2 separate regions of the Homo sapiens genome follow, and region 1 is reported to be linked to region 2. Evidence: microRNA targets listed by miRTarBase, many of them from high-throughput screens and not tested one by one. Region 2 holds a microRNA gene; the other region holds the end of a gene's coding sequence.
Evidence for each region. The annotated mature microRNA hsa-miR-1258 reads AGUUAGGAUUAGGUCGUGGAA and lies in region 2 at 1,424-1,444, shown strand. An mRNA with a match to its seed (bases 2 to 7 or 8) in the 3' UTR can be bound and repressed. Matches are read on the target gene's strand: a 7mer-m8 pairs with bases 2 to 8, a 7mer-A1 pairs with bases 2 to 7 and ends in A, and an 8mer does both.

Region 1: the mRNA of ZNF281 is a reported target of hsa-miR-1258. The part of its 3' UTR that is shown has no 7-base or 8-base seed match.

Annotation. Positions count from the first base shown.
Region 1 is chr1:200,404,456-200,407,455 of GRCh38, forward strand. It overlaps ZNF281 (zinc finger protein 281), which reads right to left. Exons shown (of 2, transcript NM_001281293.2): 2 at 496-3,000. The coding sequence ends at 2,563. Among named protein-coding and RNA genes, the nearest start is that of ZNF281, 4.1 kb to the right of the region's middle.
Region 2 is chr2:179,858,810-179,862,288 of GRCh38, reverse strand. It overlaps MIR1258 (microRNA 1258), which reads left to right and starts at 1,381; the gene lies at 1,381-1,453. It overlaps ZNF385B (zinc finger protein 385B), which reads left to right and starts at 677. Exons shown (of 10, transcript NM_152520.6): 1 at 677-1,188.

The DNA of each region.
Region 1 (3,000 bases), not on the chromosome of region 2:
ATATAAATTTGAATCCTTTTTTTTTTTTTTGAAACGGAGTCTTGCTCTGTCGCCCAGGCTGGAGTGCAGTGGCACAATCTTGGCTCACTGCAACCTCCCCACCTTCTGGGTTCAAGCAATTATCCTGCCTCAGCCTCCTGAGTAGCTGGGACTACAGGCACACGCCGCCCCACCCAGCTGATTTTTTGTATTTTAGTAGAGACGGGGTTTCACTGTGTTACCCAGACTGGTCTCGAGCTCCTGAGCTCAGGCAATCCACCCGCCTTGGCCTCCCGAAGTGCTAGGATTACAGGCGTGAGCCACCACTCCCGGCCTTGAGTCCATTTTCAACTAAAATAAACCTAGAAACACAAAATACCTAAGTTAAAAAAATACAATTAAAATACAAGCCTCTAAACTGCAGGTTATACCACGGATGTGAATATTTTAGAAAATGTTAATAGAAAATTCTGAAAAACGTTACTGGATATTAAGTAATATCTCCTTTCTTCAATCTTGTGATTAACAGGACTTTTATTGGTAGTAAACTAGAGCAAACAATCAGAATAATACATATGCAGTATTCAGTACACACAATAAAAGTTAAAGAAATTCAAAACCTGTATAAAACAAACTGGAGAAAAATCATACAGCTTAAGAGATACAGTGGTAAAGGTCCTCTCCATCCTTTGATTACAGCTTGTACTCTGTACTCAATAGAACTTACCGCACTTACTGAAATAAGAAATAAACACTTTTTAGTACTCAGCGTATTTAAGATTAAGTACATTTTCTAAGAATCTTGCAATGACAAGTTGGTGACCCTTTAGCTGCTAAAGCTAAAGGGAGGAAAGTGGGAAAAGGAAATTAACTAATACTTTGTAACCATTTTTAATATTTCTTATTTTCCAAACACTGCTTTTATAACAGAAGTGTTTTACACTTGCACAATATTAATTACTTTATTATACATGGAAGCCTGCGGTAGGCTGATTACACAATAAGACTGCAAACAACCAGTGGTACTTTTCTGACGTCAGAAGAGTACATAAGACTGAAACATCACCAAAAGTACATAAAAAACTCATCAGCATAAACATCAAAGTACATTAAAAAATATAATCAGGAAAAAAATACAATTGCTAAAAAGCAGTTTTAGAGTAGAGCCACTGCCAATCAGTAGCTTCAAATGGCAATTAGAGTTCATAGCAAGTTTTGATGACTTTACAAGACCCCTGTACAATACTAATGCACCCTTTCATTAAAATGTACATTAAAGGCCGCAATTTCACAAAGAGGTTCTGATGTTATTACTATAAGCAGACACATTCTTATCCCTCACAGGAGTTATGTCACCAGTTGGAATTACAACCTTATTAATATCTATCCAAGAACACGGGGTTTTATTACATATGGAAATCTGTATGGGTTTTTTTTTTTTTAAAGGTGGGTTTTGGGGATGTTTACCCTATTGTTTTTTATTTGGATGCCCTAAGGCATATAAAGCGCATAGTGAATTACCTACTGGAATGTAAATGGTTCTAAAATTAAAACTGTTAAAATAGAAAGAGGGAAAAGGAAGGCCCAAGAACTCTTAAAGAGAGGCTGAGAACAAGAACAAAAAAACCCAGAAGTGTAGGTAATACGTAACAGCGCAGACAGAACCGTTGTAGGCCATGTATAATAAATAATGCATGCCCCAAATTTCAGTTAATCATATAATTTCAACTTGAGTTCTAATACTGGAACCAGCCAACCACTTGGGCTTCAACACTGTACTAGATGTCAGTAGAATCGCTTGATGGAATTACAGCCTTGTTACAGTTGAGATCAAGAGAGGGTGCTTTTTTTTTTTCCTTCTTTTATTAAAGCTATCATTCCAGGCTTTGATCAAAGATCCAAGAATATTTGTTCTACCAGGCTGGAATGAATGTGGTTTGGAAGTTCAGAGTACATTTAAAAGCTGCAACAAAATATAGGTAGCCAACAATCTCAGAATTTTGGATCAGCCCAGATGGAGATAGCAATTTGAAATGTCTTCGATCCCTTACTTAAATGACGAAATGTCTATCAGCCCAGATAGAGCAATTTGAAATGTTTTCGATCCCTTACTTAAATGATGAAATGTATATCATACTATCTGTAAATTGGATATTCCATTACAGTGATAACGTACAGAATTCCCATGCGTTATTACACTTTCCTGAGAGTAAAGCAATTAGAATAACCTTAATCCTAGCAACAAAGTTTTTTTTGTAGGTTTTTTTTTTTTGGTTTTTTTTTGTCTTTTTTTTTGCGTTTAAAACATTTGGGCTATTCCCTGACGATCTATACATGTAAATTTGATTGCTAAACATTGTCACTTTGAATGTCAAACTATTTTTAATCTATTGATTTTGATTAAAAATCATAATACAAACAGAGCTAAAATCACGCTAACAAAATAAACTAAATATGAAAAGTTGCATTGAAAGGGCATCACATTATTCTTAATAGGATCGTGTAGAAACATTCCAATGGCAGTGTTCTCAAAATAAAACAAAATTACATTAGAAGACCTCCAGCCTGGCCACTTTTGGGACCTTACCTGTAACTCTGGCTGGTGGGTGTCTTTACTCTTGTACTACATGGCTCACTTACATCAGACATCATATTTGTATACCCTGAGAAATCTGACACTGAAGTCCTTACTCTATGGTCCACTTCTCCATTAGAGTTAGTGATAAAGGTCATTGGCACCCTGCTGCCCGACTTAAACTGAGAACCAAACGCTTGTGCAAAGTTCTCAATCTGATACGTTGTTCTAGGCTCTATGTCTTTCTGAGGATCTATCTGGCTAGCTAACTCCTGAGATGGAATCTGAAAGCCTGTTGAAGACTCTAAGTTTTTCTGTTCCTTCTGGCTAGTCAATTTCTGAGATGAGGACTGGAAGGCTGATGAAGTCTCTAAGTTCTTCTGAGAATCTATCAGATCATCCAGCTCCTGGGAAGGTGTCAACTGCTGATGTGTAGCATCCAAAGC
Region 2 (3,479 bases):
AAAAATATTTTAAGATCATCTGGTTAAAAAAAAATCCCTGCTATATAACACAACTCTCTTGTCATTTATGACTATTGAACTTCTCCCCAAAGAAGTAATCTCAGAAAACTGCTCTTTTAAAATTATTTTCCCTTTCTTAAGTGTTCTAAGTGCTTTCCCTTTCAGAACCAAGCACCTTGGCCATGTTTGCACTAATTTTCAGAAGATGCCCTCTACATCAGGGTAACCGATGACAGGTTTTAGTTTTGAAAACTTAAACACGGAAAAGAAATCCGGCGAAAATGAGCCCCCCGCCCACAACCCTTTCAGATCTGCTGCGAGGCTGCGATGCCTTCTTGCGCTCCGGGCCTTCCCGGCTCCGCCAAATATGCCGAAGCTGCTAGCTGTGCTCTGCTAGCCCAGGGGTGGTCAAAGAGGAAAAACAAATAGTTGGTCTGACGATCTCCAAGAAGAGAGTTTCACTCTGGGTTGACTAATATTGGAAGCATCCGCCCCATCGCGGGGCTTGGCATCTAGGCTTTGGGACCTCTGCCATTGCCAAGGATCTCTTCGGGGACCCGAGCCCCCGGGCTGAGGACCGCGGGGGACCCCAGGTCGGGACGGAGCCTCCTCTGGCTCGCTGTGCGCGCACGCCTGGAAAGGCGGGATTTAAGGCAGCGATGCTGCGGGAGGCTCTGCAGTGTCAACGAGCCCCCGAACGGTTCCGCCTCATTCCCTCTCTGTGTGCCTCGCAAGTCTCTGCTTAGTAAACCGTCACAGCTTCGGCGCGCGAGAGTGGCGTTGGCACGTCCAAACCCCGGGGTCCTCGGCCAGGCCAGGGGGGCGGGCGTGCGGCGGGGCCGGGCCGGGCCGGGCGCGCCCAGCGGGCTCCGGGCACACGCCCCTCACCTGGGCGAGGCCCGGTGCGCAGGCGCTCAGCGCGGGGGCAGCGGCCGGGCGCTTAAGCCCGGCGCGGGCAAGAGTTGGACAGTTCAGGGGCCGCGCCGGGCCGAGCTGTCGCCCGCGCCACCTCCACCGCCGCCGCTGCTACCGCCACCGCCACCGCCTGGGCTGCAGCAGATCGCGGGAGAACGTCTGCGCGAAGCCCCGGTGCAGCCCTGGCGGGACCGCAGCAACCACCGGAGCGTGAGCAACAGCTTCCCGGCTGGAGGAGCCACTGCCCCACGCGCCCGCGGCCCGCGCGCCGAGGTAAGCTCTGGGCGCCCAGCCCAGACCGGCGCCCCCGGACTGGGCGCCCTCTGCTTGCCCGGCCCCCGCCCTCCTCCGCAGAGCGAGCCTGCACCTGGGCGCGCCGCCCGAGGGAATGGCCAGGAGCCCCCCTCCCGGTAGAGTTTGCACTTTGTCTCAAGGTCCCACTTGTAGAGGAGGGCGCCCAGGCGCCTGTGGCTTCCACGACCTAATCCTAACTCCTGCGAGTCCCTGGAGTTAGGATTAGGTCGTGGAAGCCACAGGAGCATACTCCTCTGTTCCCCAGGGTAGGCTCCAATTCCCAAGGACGGATGGAGAGGGGAAAGGACGAGGAGAGTGCCCCGCTATGTTTAGCCGCAGCGCCTCGTCACCTGGGCTGGAAGTTTGGGGTTTGTCTTTCTCTCAATGACCGGGAAATGGGTAGTTAGGGGACCGAGGTGTGTGAGGAGGGTAGCGGTCGAAGCTTGGGGTCGTGGGAGAGTTCTGCAGCAGAACCCAGATGAGATGGGGGCAGAGGAGCAGAGAGAAGGTCCCCGAAGTTTGCACTTGTTGGGAGCCCTGACGGGCGGCCTCGGCCACTAAGCGCTGGTGAAGGTGTCAGGGAAGGGTGGGAGGACACTGTGGGACTGCGGAAGGGACGAGGAGAAGGGGAGGGGGAGGACCATCTGTTTCGCCACTGTTATGTGCGGGGGCCTGTGGGGAGAAGGGAGAGCTGGCAGGACGATGCTTCCCTAGACTCTGGAGGACACACAGTTTTTATGGTGAACCTGGATAGGGAGTGCTGTTCTTCAGGGGAAATAAATTGCCAAGAAGTATCCCCCCTCTCCCCACGCCCATGAATACAAAATAACGCAGTTTTGGAATGCTCTCAAAAGTTCTTGGGTTGGGAAACGTCTTCTTTCATTTTCATACAGAGATGAGGTTTGCATTTCCTTTTGGTTTTGCTTTGCTGAGGAATATCACACCAAGGGGAATGCAAACTTTGTCAAGATGTAGTAGCAAAAGATGTTCCTATAGAAGGAACAAAACATTTCTGTTATAGGGCCTAGCCTAAAGCGTGGAAACTGGCAGCGTCCACACAATTCATGAAACGGTAGGAAATGCATTTATCTAATTAAAAAGAGGGCTTTTCATAAAGTCAATAAGCTACATCTTAGGTAAGTTAAAGGCTTTGGCTTGAAAGAACTCCCTTAAATGTTCCAAGGCCAAATTTCACTGGTTTTCAGAGTCCTTTAATCTTATTTTGATGCCATGTGTGCGTTGAGTATGTGCTGCCCCTTCCCTGTAACAGATAAATGCCTTTAGAATGCAAAATACAGCATTGCAAGTTCTGTTACTTGAGGTTTTTAAGATGAAAAAGATGCTTATTTGATCAAAGTGTTGGTTGTTTTTCAGATTCTATATTCCCATAAATTAAATATTTGTGGATTTATAATTTACACTCTTACCTATTTCCAAAAGTGATTTGAGGAAGCTTGGGATAAAAACCACAAATCAGATAGCTATTCTTGTAGATCTCCTTGACCTCTCTTGGATGCATTTGTAGTAAAATGCTTTGGGGAAGGTGAATTCTCCTAACAAAGGAAAAATTACTGTCCATGTTGGAATCATCTTGGTGATACAATGTTTTGCAGCATAGTTTCTTATGTGCTTTGTTTGCAGTATATTATTTTACATTACATAAGTAATGATCTCTTTATAGAAGTTTAATAACCACTAAGTATCATCTATATTGAAAAAAATGTTGATATTTTACAGCATTTTAACAATATACAGATTCACAGAGCAAAAAGAAAACAATGAATTTAATGTATTTTTCTTCAACTGAGGTACAAAGGAAACCAAACGGAGGTGTCTCCTCTATAGTCAAATCAGAGAGGGAATTGTCATTAGTACCTGTCACCCAAATATGGCCAATTAGTGAGACCTGTCAGCAGCTGGAAGATAACTTTAAAAAGTGTAACTATTAAATGAGGATCGATCAAAGCATATCAGGTGCTCTCAGCATTCTTTTTCTCAGGCAAGTGACCTGATTCAGAGAAAAAAAAATCTTTCAAAACAATTCTGAAAGGTGAAATGCCTGTACAGACTAATGCTATGTGGAGTTGGGCACCATGAAAAAGACAAGGATCTTAAGTCCCTGGACTGGCCACCCCGCCTCCCCTGCCCTTAGACTTTTTTTCCAAGCTGAATTTGAAGATATCATTGCTTGATTTTTCATAGCAACAATTTATATTTTAAAAATTGAGCAATTAGCTAACTTCTTACAGGAGTGAGTCTTTGTTCACATA